2 separate regions of the Homo sapiens genome follow, and region 1 is linked to region 2. The links come from fine-mapping of genetic effects on gene expression. A gene starts in region 2. The other region holds a variant in brackets. All regions are shown on one strand. Distances are between the middles of the regions. Region 1 overlaps SLC35E3 (solute carrier family 35 member E3). Region 2 holds the start of NUP107 (nucleoporin 107).

The links. PIP is the estimated chance that this variant, and not a neighbour inherited with it, causes the effect. A credible set is the group of variants that fine-mapping cannot tell apart.
Region 1: its variant is the best candidate, but not a certain one, in a credible set for the expression of NUP107 in tibial nerve (GTEx, PIP 0.58).

What each region holds. Positions count from the first base shown.
Region 1 is chr12:68,767,625-68,776,413 of GRCh38, reverse strand. SLC35E3 (solute carrier family 35 member E3) reads right to left here. Exons shown (of 5, transcript NM_018656.5): 5 at 1-8,789. Among named protein-coding and RNA genes, the nearest start is that of SLC35E3, 26 kb to the right of the region's middle. The variant G/T (reference allele first, on the strand shown) is at 3,630.
Region 2 is chr12:68,683,295-68,692,083 of GRCh38, reverse strand. NUP107 (nucleoporin 107) reads right to left here and starts at 5,106. Exons shown (of 28, transcript NM_020401.4): 1 at 5,011-5,106; 2 at 3,031-3,122; 3 at 2,465-2,551; 4 at 1,338-1,453; 5 at 1-116. The coding sequence starts at 5,018. LOC100507250 (a long non-coding RNA gene) reads left to right here and starts at 5,225. Exons shown (of 3, transcript NR_038930.1): 1 at 5,225-5,347; 2 at 6,067-6,221. It also overlaps the pseudogene RPL7P42.

The sequences.
Region 1 (8,789 bases), 84 kb before region 2:
AGCCTCCTGAGTGAGTAGCTGGGATTACAGGCGCCTGCCACCACGTCCAGCTAATTTTTGTATTTTTAGTAGAGATTGGGTTTCACCATGTTGGCCAGGCTGGTCTCCAACTCCTGACCTCAAGTGATCCACCTGCCTCGGCCTCCCAAATCGCTGGGATTACAGGCGTGAGTCATCATGCCTGGCCTTTTTTTTTTTTTTGTGAGACAGAGTTTTGCTCTTGTCACCCAGGCTGGAGTGTAATGGCATGATCTCGGCTCACTGAAACCTCTGCCAGGCACACGTCACCATGCCCGGCTAATTTTTGTATTTTTGGTAGAAACGGGGTTTCACCATGTTGGCCAGGCTGGTCTCCAACTCCTGACCTCAAGTGATCCTCCTGCCTTGGCCTCCCAAAGTGCTGGGATTACAGGTGTTAGCTACCAAGTCTGGCCTTTTTTTTTTTTTTTTTTTTTTTTTTTTTTTGAGACAGAGTTTCGCTCTTGTCACCCAGGCTGGAGTGTAATAGTGTGATTCCAGCTTACTGCAACCTCTGCCTCTCGGGTTCAAGCCATTCTCCTGCCTCAGCCTCCTGAGCAGCTGGGATTACAGGCACACGCCAGCATGCCTGGCTAATTTTTATATTTTTAGTAGAGACGGGGTTTCACCATGTTGGCCAGGCTGGTCTCGAACTCCTGACCTCAGGTGATCCATCTGCCTCAGCCTCCCAAACTGCTGGGATGACAGGCGTGAGCCACCACGCCAGGCCCTATTTTTATTTTTAACCAGTGCTGTAGTTTGAATATTTGTCTCCTCCAAAACTCATCTGGAAACATCCCCAATGTGGCAATATTGAGAGATGGCGCCTTTAAAAGGTGACTGGGTCATGAAGGCTCTGCCCAGTGAGACTGGTGCCTTTATAAGAAGAGGAAGAGAGACCTGAGCTACCATGCTCAAGTCCCTCACCACGTGAGGCCCTCTGCCACCTTGGGTCTCTGCAGAGAGTTCCCAGGAACAAGAAGTCTCTCACCAGATGTGGACCCTGTACCTTGGACTTCTCAGTCTCCACTATTGTAAGAAATAAATTCCTTTTCTTTATAAATGACCCAGTTTCAGGTATTCTGTTCTATGCAACACAAAATGGACTAAGACAACGAGTACGCTTAGTTGTTGCTTCCTGAGTTCCAAAGTCCGACAGACAGAGCAGGTCCTCCATTCTTGCCCCTTTTTACCCCAAATGCTCATTGGCATTCTTGCAGCTACGAGTAATAATTAAAAGTGGCTAAGCCAGGCTGGCATGGTTGCTCACGCCTGTAATATCAGCACTTTGGGAGGCTGAGGCAGGAGGATCACTTGAACCCAGGAGTGAGACCAGCCAGGGCAACATAGCAACACCCTGTCTCTAATTATTATTATTTTTTTAAGTGAGTAAGCCAAATAGGGGTTTACTTTTCATCTAGAACAAGAAGACGTGTTGGCCAGGCTGGTCTCAAACTACTGGGCTCAAGTGATCCACCCACCTCAGCCTCCCAAAGTGTTGGGATTATGCGTGAGCCACCGCACCTGGCCACAAGACCCAATTTCTTTTATTTTATCTTTTTTTTTTTTTTTTTAAGAGATAGGGCATCTAACGGCATTGTTTTAGCTGCTCAACACTTTTTTTTTTTTGCTTATTTTTGTTTGTTTTGTTTGTTTTTGAGACAGGGTCTCCCTCTGTTGCCCAGCATATAGTGCAGTGGCATGATCATGGCTCACTGCAGCCTCAACCTCCCAGGATCAGGCAATCCTCCTGCTTCAGCTTCCTGAGTAGCTGAGACCACAGGTGCACACCAATATACCTAATTTTTTTTTTTTTGAGATGGAGTTTCACTCTTGTTGCCCAGGCTGGAGTGCAATGGCGTGGTCTCAGCTCACTGCAACCTCTGCCTCCCTGGTTCAAGCGATTCTCCTGTCTCAGCCTGCCGAGTAGCTGGGGTTACAGGCATAAGCCACTACGCCCAGCTAATTTTGTATTTTTAGTAGAGACAGGGTTTCTCCATGTTGGTCAGGCTGGTCTCGAACTCCTGACCTCAGGTGATCCACCCACCTCAGCCTTCCAAAGTGCTGAGATTGCAGGTGTGAACCACTACGCCTGGCCACCTGACTAATTTTTAAGTTATTCACAGAGAACAGGTTTTGCAATGTTGCCCAGGCTGGTCTCAAACTCCTGGGCTCAAATGATCCTCCTCCCTCGGCCTCCCAAAGTGCTGGGGTTACAGGTGTGCCACTGTGCCTGGTCGGCTCACCACTTTCAGATCTGGCTCTCTTCACCTCTCTTTTATAGTCATAAGCTGATTAGCACAATTCTAGACATCCGCAGCTACATTTAAGGCAGGAAGGAGGTGGTAATAGACACTACCAGCCACATCTGTCCCTTTTAATCAGGATACCCTAGAAATCCTCAGCAGACTTTGAATTATGTGCCATTGGTGAAATGTCATATGATCATCCCTCTACAAGGCAACGAGGTAAAAAGAGAATTTAGTATTTCTAGCCTCTAGAGTGGAGATGAACAAAGAATAGGAATGGGCATTTGCTTAGGAAACCAACTGTGCCTTACAACATTTTTGCACTTTTTTCTGTAACATTTTGTGTTAAATCATATAAAAATGCTGATCCTAACAAATATGGTCAATGAGTCACACCATAATTCTCTAAGAACTCCAGTCCAAAAAGGTTAATCTTGCTTTTAAACTCCAGGCGCGGTGTTTCACAGCTGTAATTTTAGCACTTCGGGAGGCAGAGCAAGAGGATCACTTGAGGCCAGGAGTTGGAGACCAGCCTGGCAACATAGCAAGACCCCGTCTCTACAAAAAATAAAATTATCTGGGCCTGTTGGTGCACACCTGTAGTCCCAGCTACTCAGGAGGCTGAGGTGGGAGGATCACTTGAGCCTAGGAATTCGAGGCTGCAGTGAGCTGTGATTGCACCACTGCACTCCAGCCTGGGTGACAGAGGGAGAACCTATCTCCAAAACAAAACAAAATAAAAACAAAACAAAACTCCAAGCAGAGAAAGACTTGACGAGTCGGATGAGTCTGATGATTCCTAAAGGAAATCCTTTTTGAGATTCCAGGAGATTCCATCTCCTCAACAGAGTAATTGATTTTGAGCCTCCCACCTCCTGAATTAAGGCCCACCCATCCCTATCCTGCACTGAACTGTAGACTCTTTTTTACTTCCTTACAAAAGTTTATTCTTAAATGTACAACAGACTCCAAGACGACACTTTATTGTAGCTATAGGTGGCAAAAGATGTTATGGCAGAGAATCCAGATGTTTAAATAGGAATGGGGTCAAGGGTCACCGCCCCAAGCACGGATAACAAAATTTATTTTTTGCCAGATTTCTTTAATTCCACCTGTGACTGGTGAGGGCTGGTGGCGGGGTGGCTTTCACTTTTAGCTCCTCTTTTTGTTTCTGCTTGAACGTCCCATCTTCCTTACCCACCCCCTTGACCTGCTTCTTGAGCTTTCTCAGGGCTTCTTGCCACCTTTGCAGCTGTACATGGCACCTGCCATAGGGCTCTAATTTTAAACTGAGAAATTGAGAAAACAGGAAACTGACTCTTTTTGGGGGGAGAGTAAGACAAACAGGAAAAGGAAAATGAA[G/T]ACGTGGTTGATACAGATCGTTGGATTTCAAAAGGAAAAGTCTACGGATAACCGAAAAAAATAAATATTTAGAAATGCATAGTCTTGGCTGGTTAAATAAGTATCCATGCTTGTTCTTGTGGCATAGTAGTTACGAGACATTTTTAGTTAAATGGAAAAATGTGAATTACTATAGTTTGAGTGATATGCTGCTTTCCAAATTAAAAGCAGCATAACAAAAACATTCCCCTAATACTCATAAATAATTCATTGAATTGGCAATAATTCACCTCCTAATGACTTCATATGAAGTATAAAGTAACTTCGATACATCAGAAGAAATCCTATCTTCTAATATAAGAAAGTAATATGATTACATTAAATGCGTCTCATATAAGTTATAAAAATGGTATCTATGAGTAAAGAAATGCTTGTGAACAAAAAAATTGATCTTATAAAGGTCAAACAGGCCAGGCGTGGTGGCTCACACCTGTAATCCCAGCACTTTGGGAGGCTGAGGTGGGCGGAGTACCTGAGGTCAGGAGTTCAAGACCAGCCTGGCCAACATGGTGATACCCTGTCTCTACAAAAATACAAAAAATTAGCTGGGCATGATGGTGGGTGCCTGTAATCTCAGCTACTCGGGAGGCAGAGGCGGGAGAATCGCTTGAACCCGGGAGGCGGAGGTTGCAGTGAACTGAGATTGAGCCACAACAACCAAGCCTGGGAGACAGAGGAAACTCTGTCTCAAAAAATAAAAAATAAAAATTAAAATTAAAAAAAAGGTCAAACAAACCAAACCCTTCTGATTAATTTATTCAATCTACTTTTATTATAAGCAAATGAGAAATTATAATTTTAATCTGAAAAAGCAGAATCAGGGGATTTTGGAGCTGGACAGTCCCCTGGAAATTATTTGGATCAAAGCCCTCATTTTATAGGTGAAGAAACTGAGAAGTAAGATTTGAGCAAGCTGCCCAAAGGCTTTGCCAAAGGCTATACCAGTGAATGGCAGAGTCTGGACTGGAAGTCCCAGTGCTGCCGTCCAGGTGAGACCTGTTCCACTGCATGCTACTAGCTCCCGGGCTGAGACCGGACTTTTGCTTGGCAGGTTTCTTTCTTTCGAAACTATTAATTATTGTATTTTTTGTAGAGACAGGGTTTTGCCATGATGCCCAGGCTGGTCTTGAACTCCTGAGCTCAAGAGATCCACCCAGCTTGGCCTCTCAAAAATGTTGGGATTACAGGCATAAGCCACAGTGCCCGGCCCATTTTCCTCCCACCTCTTTGTTCCTTCTCTGTTTCTTTTGCAGCATTATGTTCTATCATTGTATACCAGAGTTCCTCAACTTCAGTTATAGTCTGTTCTTGCTTTATGCTATCTTCTTCAGCAAGCTCATCTTGGTCTGTTTTCCTCCTTATCAGGCATACCCCAGAAACTCCTGTTTTATCTCCACCTCAACTAAACATTTTCCTGAGTTCTGGGCCTCTATAAACTAATTATTTGATTAACATCTTTTTTTTTTTTTTCTGAGATAGAGTCTCTCTCTGTCACCCAGGCTGGAGTGCAGTGGTGCAATCTCAGATCACTGCAGCTTCTGCCTCCCAGATTCAAGCGATTCTCCTGCCTCAGCCTCCTAAGTAGCTGGGATTATAGGCATGCACCACCGCACACAGCTAATTTTTGTACTTTTAGTAGAGACGGGGTTTCACCATGTTGGTCAGGCTGGTCTCAAACTCCTGATCTGAAGTGATCTGACTGCCTCAGCTTCCCAAAGTGCTGGGATTACAAGCCTGAGCCACCATGCCTGGCCAACATCTTTAATTGGATATCTCAGTATCAAGAAGGCCCATAATATTCCTCTGCCTCATCCCTCTCCTCAGTCCTCTTCTTGTGTTTCCTAGTTCAGAGAATGGCACCATTCTCTATCAAGCTGCGCAAATCAGACATGTGTGATTTTTTGTTGTTGTTGAGACAGGGACTCACTCTGTCACCCAGGCTAGAGTGCAGTGGCGTGATCATGGCGCACTGAAGCCTCAAACTCCTGGGCTCAGGAGATCCTCCCGCCTCAGCCTCCTGAGTAGCTGGGACCACAGGCCCACACCACCATGCCCAGCTAATTTTGTATTCTTTGTAGAGATGGGGTTTCATCATGTTTGCCCAGGCTGGTCTCGAACTCCTGGACTCAAGCAATCCACCCACCTCAGCCTCCCAAAGTGCTGGGATTACAGGCATGAGCCACTGTGCCCAGCTGAAGTGTGATCCTTAACTTCACCCCTTCTCATGCCCTCCATTTCCAATCCATCTCCAGTCCAGTTGACTCCAGCTACTCAATTATTTCCACTTATCTCATTCCACTACCTTTGAAGCTACCACCATCTCTAACTACAGTCATCTCCCAACTAACTGGTCTCCTGGCATCTCTCTGGTTCTCCTCCACTAATTTCAAAAAAAGAAATTTACTGTGACAGTGCTCACAACACTCCCCCTTGCTCTTACTAAAGATGCTTACCATAGCCTCCAGGTATTGTATGGCCTGAGGTCTATCTACATTTCCAGGTGCAGGACACACCATGTCTCCCCACTCCCAAATTTAGTCTCCAGACTCCATCCTTTTTACAGTTCTTTAAAAGCATCACAATTCCTCCAACCACTAGGCATTTGTATGTGCTATTCCCTCTTTCCAGAATGCAATACCCTCCCTCTGCCTAGCTAGCTAACTTCTATGTATCTATGACTGCAGCTCAAACTTTCCTCATGGACTCCCTCCACAAGTGCCAAGCCTGGGCCAGATTCTTTTGTTATGTGCTCACAGAACGATGTTCCCTTTAGCATTCATTGAGTTTGCTGTTTAATTATTCTTGTCTTGTTTTTGTTTAATTAGTCCTATCTCTAATACTAGACAAATGTTCCTTAAGATCACAGGAAATATAGGACTGTCTCTACATAAAAACTGTTTTATATCCATAATGCCTAGGACAGTACCTGGCACACAGTATATGCTCAATAAATTTTTGTTGAATGAATGCAATTATCATTATATTCCTGATATTAGCAGGTATAATCCAGTTTAAGTTTGGGAACAGAAAGACAAAACGGACCACATCTAATAAATCCGGTCTCCTTTCTTTTATTATTTATTTATTTGAGACAGTTTTGCTCTTGTTGCCCAGGCTGCAGTGCAATGGCATGATCTTGGCTCACTGAAACCTCCGCCTCCCAAGTTCAAGGGATTCTCCAGCCTCAGCCTCCCAAGTAGCTGGGATTACAGGCATCCACCACCACGCCCAGCTAATTTTTTTGTATTTTTAGTAGAGATGGGGTTTCACCATGTTGGCCAGGCTGGTCTCGAACTCCTGACCTCAGGTGATCCACCCACCTCAGCCTCCCAAAGTGTTGGGATTACAGGCGTGAGCCACCGTGCCCGGCCAAGGTCTCCTTTCTTTTAATCAAACTCTCACCTTTGGCCATTCTGCAGTCATTCACCCGACAGTATTTACTGACGGAGTGAATACAGAGTGCTTGATTAATGTTGCTGCTTTGTTATTATTATTATTATTATTGAGATGGAGTCTTGCTCTGTTGCCCAGGCTGGAGTGCAGTGGCGTGATCTCGGCTCACTGCAACCTCCGCCTCCCGGGTTCAAGCCATTCTCCTGCCTCAGCCTCCCAAGTAGCTGGGACTACAGGCATGCAACACCACACCTGGCTAATTTTTGTATTTTTAGTAGAGACAAGGTTTCACCATATTGGCCAGGCTGGTCTTGAACTCCTGACCTCAGGTGATCTGCCCACCTCAGCTTCCCAAAGTGCTGGGATTACAGGCGTGAGCCACCATACCCAACCTAATGTTTCTGCTTTGAAATACAATTTCAAAAAGTCATTAATAGGTTGAAAACAGCAAGATTTTAAAAGTATTTTAAAAAGTGAAACAGAAGAATGCTTACTTCATTTCACAGAGATAGATTTCTCCTTTATGTTATTTCTAAAAGGAGATGGAATTTTGTTTCATTCATTTCTGCTTATTTGGACAGGCCAAATATGAACAGCTGAACACGTCAGCGTTACCATGCATATGTTACACAGATGCCATCCTTCTTCCATCAGCTCTCATATGCAATACAGAAGTAAAAAGAGGTTCTCTTTATTTTTAAAAGGTAAAAATTGAAATTCAGTCACTTAACACAGAATAAACAATAATTACAATTACACTGGTAACAAAGGACAGCAAGCATGTTTTCTTTGAAAGCACTGTATCTGGTTTGTCTCCGTGCTTGGTCCTAGTATCTGGCATATTTTCCCCAGAGTTTTCTTTTCAGTGGGATGATTATCTTCGGGGCAAAAAAGTTTATCAGACTCAAGTTTTAGCAGTACTTATTTTATTCATTTATATACATGTAACCCCATCCTGTCTTACTCCAATCTTCTTACTGCCTTCCTACTGACACATATATTATATAACACCCTCCCCAAGTTCTATTTACGGTTAAAAATTTCTTTTTTTTTTTCTTTTTTTGAGACAGAGTTTCACTCTCGTCACCCAGGCTGGTGTGCAATGGCGCAGTCTCGGCTCACTGCAACCTCCGACTCCCTGGTTCAAGTGATTCTCCTGTCTCAGCCTCCCGAGTAGCTGGAATTACAGGCGCCCGCCACCATGCCCAGCTAATTTTTGTATTTTTAGTAGAGACAGTGTTTCGCCATGTTGGCCAGGCTGGTCTCAAACTCCTGACCTCAGGTGATCCACCCGCCTTGGCCTCTCAAAGTGCTGGGATTATAGGCGTAAGCCACTGCGCCCAGCCTACAGTTACGAATTTCTAAATGGCACAAATAAACTCAGCTGTTCTCAGTGCAGACGTCAAATCCTCACTGTGCTGAAACATTTTCCTCAGCTTTTGGGAAATAATTACAATTTAAACATACACAGAGAATGTTTCTTAGACAAACATAATACCCGAGGCTTATCTGGTAAAAACTAATTGCTCTGTCCTTAGCACAAAAAATATATATCTTTGTAAAATGAGAAGAACCAAAGAATATTTAAAACAAAGAAGGAAGCCACACGTACTAATTACACAAGAGACTGACTGACAAACTGGAATTCTCCAAAACAGATTTTCAGCGAGGCTTCTCATTTCAGAGTCCAGGAAAAAAAAATCCTAAAAACCCCAAAGGTATATTATA
Region 2 (8,789 bases):
ATAACAGCACTGATAGTTACATCTTCTGTTATACTGTGGGGCTCTGTGTTTGTGAACAGCCCGGAACGCTGTGATGAAAATGCAGCTGCCCAGTTACTGTCATCCAGATTAGTAACCTTAAAAAAAAACAAAAAAGTAAAAATACAGAAAAGTGATGGAGTTATTGTCACTGAGTGGATACTTTAAAAACAAATAAGGTTTCTAAAAATTATATGTATGTATGCGTCTTTTTTTTTTTTTTTCCCTTCTTGAGATAAGGTCTGGATCTGTTGCCCAGGCTGGAGTTCAGTGGCACGATCATGGCTCAACGCAACCTTTGCCTCTCAGGCTCAAGCCATCTTCCCACTTCAGCCTCCCAAGTAGCTGGGACTACAGGCACGTGCCACCACGCCTGGCTAATTTTTGTATTTTTGGTAGGTATGGGGTTTCACCATGTTGGCCAGGCTGGTCTCAAATTCCTGGCCTCATGTGATCCACCTGCCTCAGCCTCCCAAAATGCTGGGATTACAGATGTGAGCCACCATGCCCGGCTACTATAGTGTATTTTTAATACTTAGGTGAAGTCATTCTGCATCACAGCTTACATAACATTTCTTTTGCTATTTTTAATACTGTTCCATAGTGATTCCTAAAGAGTATCTCACCTACTTTTTCCAATTTTCTCTTTTATCCCCTTTAATACATTTTATCTCTTCCTTAAGATATTCTTCATCTGTTAACCTCTGATTCCTACTCTTGTATGCTTCAAAACAGGGATCAGATTTTATAGCCATCAGCAACCAACCACAGCATGTACTTCTTCTGGTCAGCAAACTGACAGATTAAAACATCTTATTTTCATCTAAAGGTTGCTGGTGTCACAGTTTCCATCTGTGATATCAGATGCATAAGGTTTTCAGTTTTTTTACTGTCTAATTATTTCAATCCATATAACCTAAAGTTACTGTTATGATGATTCTGACTCAATATTTGTTAAAAGACTTTTACATCAAATATCATATTTTTATAAAAAGGGAGAAGTTCTTTTTTCTCTTTTTTTTTTCTTTTGCAATCACAGGTCACTGCAACCTCTGCCTCCTGGGTTCAAGCAATTCTCACACCTCAGCCTCCCGAGCAGCTAGGATTACAGGCATAAGCCACCACTCCCAGCTAATTTTTTTATTGTTAGTAGAGACAGGGTTTTATCATGCTAAGCAGGCTAGTCTCAAACTCCTGACTTCTGGGAGGCCAAGGCGGGAGAATCACTTGAGGTCAGGAGTTCAGGGAGTGCTGAGATTACAGATGTGAGCCACCACACTCGACCCAAAAGGAGTTCTTAGCCCTATTTTTCTACATACCATGGAGAGATTTCCAAAGAACCCTGAAGACTGCGTAAGTCGGGGCGACTTCCCTCCTGTTCCAAGAATGCAGGAAATATCTGGCTGCCTTAGTAAGCTTCGGCTTGTTGGGGTAACTATAAACAAAAGGTTGGTAGAAAGAACCTAAAGTGCGTGAGCATTCATTATCAAAACAAAGTAAGCAAACAAACAATGAAGAATAAATTTTTCAGTTTTCCATTATTTAGACTCTAACCAAATAAATACTTTAAATGTTAACATTTCCATGATACAAGGATTTAACTTATTTTTCTAAATTTGAGCTGTAGGTACTACTGAGCCTAACAGGAAACATTTTACTGCAATTACAGATGCTTTCATTATAGAATAACTGAGCAGTTAAAGACACTAATCAGTCAACGGATTCTTCATATTTTAATTTTATAAGGCATACTGAGGCAGTGCAGTGTAGTGGGCATAAACTTTGGAGTAAACAGATCATTGTTTGAATCCCAGTTCCATTATTTACATACTCTTTTTTTTCTGTCTCAGAACAAAAAAAGAGTATGTAAATAATGGAACTGGGATTTTTTTTTTTTTTGCTCTGTCGCCCCAGCTGGAGTACAGTGGCACAATCTCAGCTCACTGCAACCTCTGCCTTCCGGGTTCAAGCAATTCTCCTGCCTCACCCTCCGGAGTAGCTGGGATTACAGGCATGTGCCACCACGCCAGCTAATTTTTGTATTTTTAGTAGAGATAGGGTTTTGCCATGTTGGCCAAGCTAGTCTTGAACTCCTGGCCTTAAGTGATCCACCCACCTTGGCCTCCCAAAGTGTTGAGATTATAGGCATGGGCCACTGCATCCAGCCTATTTACATACTTATTGTATATATTAGTTAACTTCTCTAAGTCTCACTTTCAGTTTTGGTAAAACAGGGCCAACAATACCCATGTCATAGTTACCGTGTGTTTATGGAAAGTACAGTACCTTGTACATGGCAAGAGTTCAAACGAATAATAACTGCAATCATTATTATTAGTGCTTATTGATATCGTAACCAAATACTATACTAATTATGTTACAATAAATGTTAGTTGCTATTATAATTACCGTTATTATTAAATGCTTTAAAAGCAAAAAATCTTACAAGGCTGTCGAAATGAGCTAGGAGTTCGAGGGATAACCTGGTTTCTTGGTGTAGTATTACCAAAATTTTCATCTTGAGATGCCTGAACTGTACAACGAGTTAAGAAAAGTTTTCCATGTAGAAAAGAGATCACTAAAATGAGAATTAACCATCTTTTTACTATACAAATTATGTGAATACATTTTTCAAGAACAAGTATTTTAGGGCTACCATTTTTCAATGCAAAGGGTAAATAATTCATTGCTTCTGCCATTTAAATGATCAGATGTCAGTCTTAGATAACTACACACTGAACTAAATGTTTTTAGTCAGTTTTCAAATAATAAAAAGAAATCTAATCTCAGCAGAAGCTGTCAGCAGTAAGAAATATCTTTATTTTTAGGGAAATACGATCTCATTAAATTTTTGCATTATATTTACCAAATGACAGCTCTGTGGAGTGAAAAAAAGTTTCTACAGGATTTTATTATAGCTACCATTTAATACTCTTATAAAAAGAAAATTCTACAACACTGATTCCAAACATGTTACAATTTTTATAATGATGCTTAAATCGCAAAGGATACGTAAAACTCTTTTCTGAGCACTCTGTTTCCGTGCAGTCCGTGTCACCTCTGCCTCCCGGATTACAGGGGATGATATCTCTCCAAAGCCACTCCTAAAGTAGTATAATCAAGCTTATATAAGTGAAACGAGAATATAGCATTTATAAAGAATTTTATCATCACAGTTGGAGTAAAGGACCCTGAGTAAGTTAAGGTATAGTCATTCTAGTAGCCAAGTCTTAGATCTTTTGTTGAGAACGCACTCCTGGCTCCAAATCCTGCTTATTCTTCAAAGCCTTACTCAAATCTTACCTGCACAAAGACTTCTCTGACTTTCTAGTACTCACTATGTTATTTTCTCCTAAGGAATTATTTCAACACTTGGAATCTATATTATAACACTGTTTTAGATAATTGCTTCATGAAAGTGAATCTTATTTCCCTTGTTGGATTGAGGAGTTACCTAACTGCAGGAATTCTCTCTTAAAAGATTTTCTGCAGTCTCCAAAATGCTTTAAACCATGGGTACTATTAAAAAACAAACAAACAACAACAACAACAAACAGAGCTTGCAACAACAACAACAAACAGAGCTTGTGAGATAGAAGGGTAAGTAAAAGAATTGTGGTAAATTGGAGCAAAATGACCCTTCAAGTTATTTCAACCCAGGAGGTCTCCTGTCCCATCACAACACTCCCTGTCAGTTTCACTCAAAGGTCTAGAAACTAAATTGTGCGGACTAAAAGGCCTGTGTTTAAGACAAGAATCTAATATGCTTTTCCTCCACTTAAAACCTTCAGATATTCCTTCAGCAGGAAAGTATGGGAAACAACCACATAGAAACAATTTTAAACGTTTAACAATTAAAATTAAAAACAAAAAAAAAAACCTTCAGATAGCTCTCTGGTCTATAGAAGTAAAAATTTCCTAAAATGATATTTACAATGTGACCCCAGTTTAGGGGTTCAGTCTTCTATTCAGCCACAAACATCACTTTAAACGTATACTGCATGTGACCACTGAGCTACACGTACTTTTTTTTCATATCCTAGCACCTCTGAATATGCTTCTTTTACAAAGACCTACATTTGCCCCCTTGAGCACCTGGTCAACAACTACTTACTCCTCAAAGAGCCTCAGGTAGGCTGGAGACACACAGATGCAGGTTGGCAATTTGGTTCTTGTATTTATTAGCTTCCGAACTTTCAGCAAGTTCCTTAACCTCTTTTAGTCTCAGTGTTATATATGAAAAAAGGATAACAGTACCCATCTCATAGGATTTTTCTTGTTCTGAAGATTAAATAAGCTAATAATATATATTCAACGCCTTTAGAACAATGGCAGTCACATAGTAGGTACTCAATGTTTGGAGTACGAATAATGTACTCTTATTATTCAAAGACCAGCTAGAAAGTTACCTTCTTTGAGGGGTCTTCCTGATAGTTACAGTGACAAGGAGACTTAATCGCCCCCAAACACTTACCACTTTACACTGCTTGGTTGTCTCCATTACACAACTAATTCCCCGAGGGGAAGGATCTTGAATAACTGATCTTTGTTGTAGGCGGCTAGCACAGTACCCAGATCATAGAGGGAACTCAGAATCTGATGCTGGCACTTGTAATCAGAAAGTCTGGGCTGAGATCCCAGTATCTTCACTGACTGGCTTTGTGATCTCAGGCTGGTCACTTAGCATTTCGAACGCCGCGCTACCTACCCCGCCCACCCCAGGAGCGAACAGTGTTGCTGCCCCAAAGCGCCGAATAGATCGCAGAACGTAGTGGGAAAGTAAGGGACTATTATGATCTGTACCCCACCCCGACGCACGCCAAGCGGCTTTTTCCCCATTTGTGGCCAAATTTCCCGGCATGGGGAAGGAGCCTTAGGGGAAGCACCCGGGACCTCCTTGGCTTCTTCTGGGAGTCTAGTTTCACCTATTTCGTTTCGCCAACAGGCGAGACGGGCAAGACTTCGGGCTCAGCTGCCACCATCAGTACTGACCTGTCCATGGCTAAAGCCTTTTCCACACACAACCAAAGTTGGCTGCAGTTTAGCTACCGCGTTTTAGCCTTCCCGCTCTCCGGAAGCAAGCCCTTCGACCCGGAAGCAGTCTGTCCCTAAAACAGACCCACAGAAAAGGGGTAGGGGAGAAGAAACAACGTTCCCATCTAGCGCATGCGCGACTTCAGCCTACAGGTGCACGCCCGGTGGGCGCAGGCGCAAAAGTTTGCCAATGTGTTCCTGGTTGCGTTTAGCCCAGACGCCCTGCGGCCGCTTTGCCTGACCAAAGTCTGTGGGCGTGGAACAGGCCCTGGGTTCTCCTACTGGGAAGAATGAAGTATGTTGATAGTCTGGAAAAATGTGAAGTCATTTCCTGGTATTCTCTGTCAGAAAGCGCCTGTTCTTGGAATTCAGATGCGTGGGCTCTGCCCCACACCTCGGGGATCTCTATCTCTCTGCCTACACTCAGTCCTTTGTTCTGTAGCCCCCTGCAGTTTTTGCAACTATTTTCCATAACTGCTATTTGTTCTTTACTTGGTGTTCTTTCCTATTAAGGAGAAAAAGTTCACCTGTATTAAAAAGTAGAAAGGCAAGCGTGAAATATGATGGTATTGCCCTCTATTTCAAAGTGCCGTCTAGGCAAAAAGTGGTGTATTTTGGTCTTGAAGGAGTCAGTCACATTTTTGTTTTGGTTTTTGTTTTTTCCAGTTTGAAAGTAGTGACTGGCTATTAACTGACCAGATTACAAAAATAATGTTAGATGCTTCAGTTTATCCGTTTAATAAGCCTGTTGATATAGTCTTTTCTGTTGCTGGCATTTATACCTTTTATTAATACAAAATAGGTAGTCCTTCATTCTCCCTCGTGGAGAAGATAATTTGAAGGATCACAGGAACTTGAGTTTTTCAACAGCATAGATCTCATGAATCAGATTCTCCAGTCAGATGATGCCATATTTATCAGGAAATCTAGCAATCAAAGCGTTATCTGTTAAGGTAATTTGTTTATTGATTTTGCCATAACCAATTTGTAGATCAGTTCATTTACTGATTTCAGGTTCAGGTACTCCATGTGATATATGGTTCCACAATCCTCAGCGTGTTAACTGAAGCCTTGTTGAGTTTAACAAAGCTGCCATTGAAGATCTGGGGAAAGTGAAGAAGTTGCAACAGAGTTTTGGGCTCACACCATTGATACATTTGATCCTTAAGGCAAGTGACAATTTGGGTTTCACAGGTATATAGAAATTGCCAGCTTTTCTTGCCATATATTTCTTGTGACAGTGCTGAGCTTTTTTTTTTTACTTCTTGCTTGCTTTTTTTTGGACTTGATTTTTTAAATTATGTTTCCTTCCTTCCTTCTTTCTTTGTTTTTTTTTTTTTTGAGACAGGATCTTGTCCTATTGTCCCGGCTTACGTGCAGTGGCACAGTCACGGCTCACTGCAGCCTTGACCTCCTGGGCTCCAGCAATCCTCCTACCTCAGCCTCCCTAGTACCTGAGGTTGCTGGGACCACAGGCACGCACCACCATGCCTGACCTCCTCTCCTCCCCCGTTTTTTAAAAATATTTTGGAGAAATGGGGTCTTATGTTGTTGCCCAGGCTGGTCTCAAACTCTTGGGCTCAAGCCATCCTCTTACCTGGGTCTCCCAAAGTGCTGGGATTACAGGGGTTAGCCACCACATCTGACAGTGCCTAGCTTTTTCATAGATGTAGCTTTCTCCTTGCTTTTCTTTTTCTTTTTTTTCGAGATGGAGTCTCATTCCATTGCCCAGGCTGGAGTGCAGTGGTGCCATCTCGGCTCACTGCAACCTCTGCCTCCTGGGTTCAAGCGATTCTCCTGCCTCAGCCTCCTGAGTAGCTGGGATTACAGGTGTCTGCCACCACACCCGGCTAATTTTTGCGTTTTTGGTAGAGATGGGGTTTCACCATGTTGTCCAGGCTGGTCTTGAACTCCTGACCTCAGGTGATTCACCTGCCTCAGCCTCCCAAAGTGCTGGGATTACAGGCGTGAGCCACTGCGCCTGGCCTTCTCCTTTCTTTTCAAAGCATTTTATGGGCAAACTTCTTTCTCAGGCACTTGACCTTTAGCTCTGTGAAATTCCTTCATGTGTTTTATTTTTATTTTTTGAGACAGAGTCTTGCCCTTTTGCCCAGGCTGGAGTGCAGTGATGCAATCTTGGCTCACTGAAACCTCTGCCTCCCCGGTTCAAGCGATTCTTGTACATCAGCCTCCCAAGTAGCTGGGATTACAGGCGTGCACCACCATGCCCAGCTAATTTTTGTATTTTTAGTAGAGGCGGGGTTTCACCATGCTGGCCAGGCTGGTCTCGAACTCCTGACCTCATGATCCACCCGCCTCGGCCTCCCAAAGTGCTGGGATTACAGGCATGAACCACAGTGCCCAGCCTTCCCTCACATTTTTAAAGGGTTTCTGGCACAGCAGGAATCTTCTTTTTCTTGTCTTCAATACCCTCCATGGTTTCAGCTGGGAAAGAGGAAATCAGTGGAAGTTTTGCCTTAGGCATTTATGTTCTGCTGTAATTCTGGGAAGCATAGTTCCCCGGAAGGCCTCTTCATACCTTATTATCCCCTCTCAGACAACATGGCATTTTGATAAAAACATTGCTTTGGGCTCCATCTAGGTTCAACCCCCCTGCACCTGCAGATTCCTCATCTGTAGAGTGGAGAAAACAATACCTTTGTCAGGGGGTGTTGTGAGGATTAAACAAGATGTCATAGGGAGTCCCTGTCTCTAACATAAGTTTTAAAAATTAGCCACGTGTGGTGACACGTGCCTGTGGTCCCAGCTACTTGGGAGGCTGAGGCAGGAGGATCACTTGATCCTGGCAGGCCGAGGCTGCAATGAGCTATGATCATGCCACTGCACTCCAGCCTGGATGAAAAAGTGAGACTTTGTCTCAAAAAAACAAAACAGACAAACAAAAAAAACAGAGACATCAACTGTATACACTGTACATAGCAGGTCATTGAAATGTTACTTTTCTCCTTTAATAACCTTTCTGAAGAATAATGCCCTGGCATGGTCTCATTCTCCCACCTCCTAATTTTCCTGTATACAAGTTCACTTTTTCTTATGGAAAGTGAAATGTAGTCCTAATCAGAGCTGGGGCAAGTTTATTCAAAGTATGATCTGTGGTTCATGTTCTTGCTCTGTGTCCCTCAGCAGTTGAATTCCAATGAGTTTTATTCGTGTAGTATACTTGAAGTGTACTTGAGGTGATTGACCATGAAGCACACAATAAAAATTAGCCCTGTGTTTGGGGCAAAAAAATTAGCCCTGTGTTCAGTTCATATGCAAAGATGGAAAACTTTTTGGAAAGTGCACTGGGTTTCACTTTTGACACATTTAATTAGTAGGCATGAACACCATAGCAACCCTGCCAAAATTTCAAAACATATTCATTTCATTACCTTAAAAGGATGTGGAATAAATTTCTTATGTGGTGTATATTGTATACATGGTAGCTTTATGTTTAGTATTCTTGGTTGCAATGACAGAAATTGACTATGGTTAACTTAAACAAAAGGGAATTTACTGGAAGCACATCAGGAGATCTTGGAATTGTTAAGAAACTGGAGAAAAGGTCTGGGATAGCACAGCTCCTCAGGAGCTGAAGGCCAGGAAGCGTCTTTCCCAAAGACACTCAAACTCCAACTGTTTGCTCCAGAGCATCCTTCACCTCCCTTATCCCCAACAGCTGAGGCATCAAATATCATTATTTGTACCCCCACCACCCCACCCCAAGTTTTTTTTTT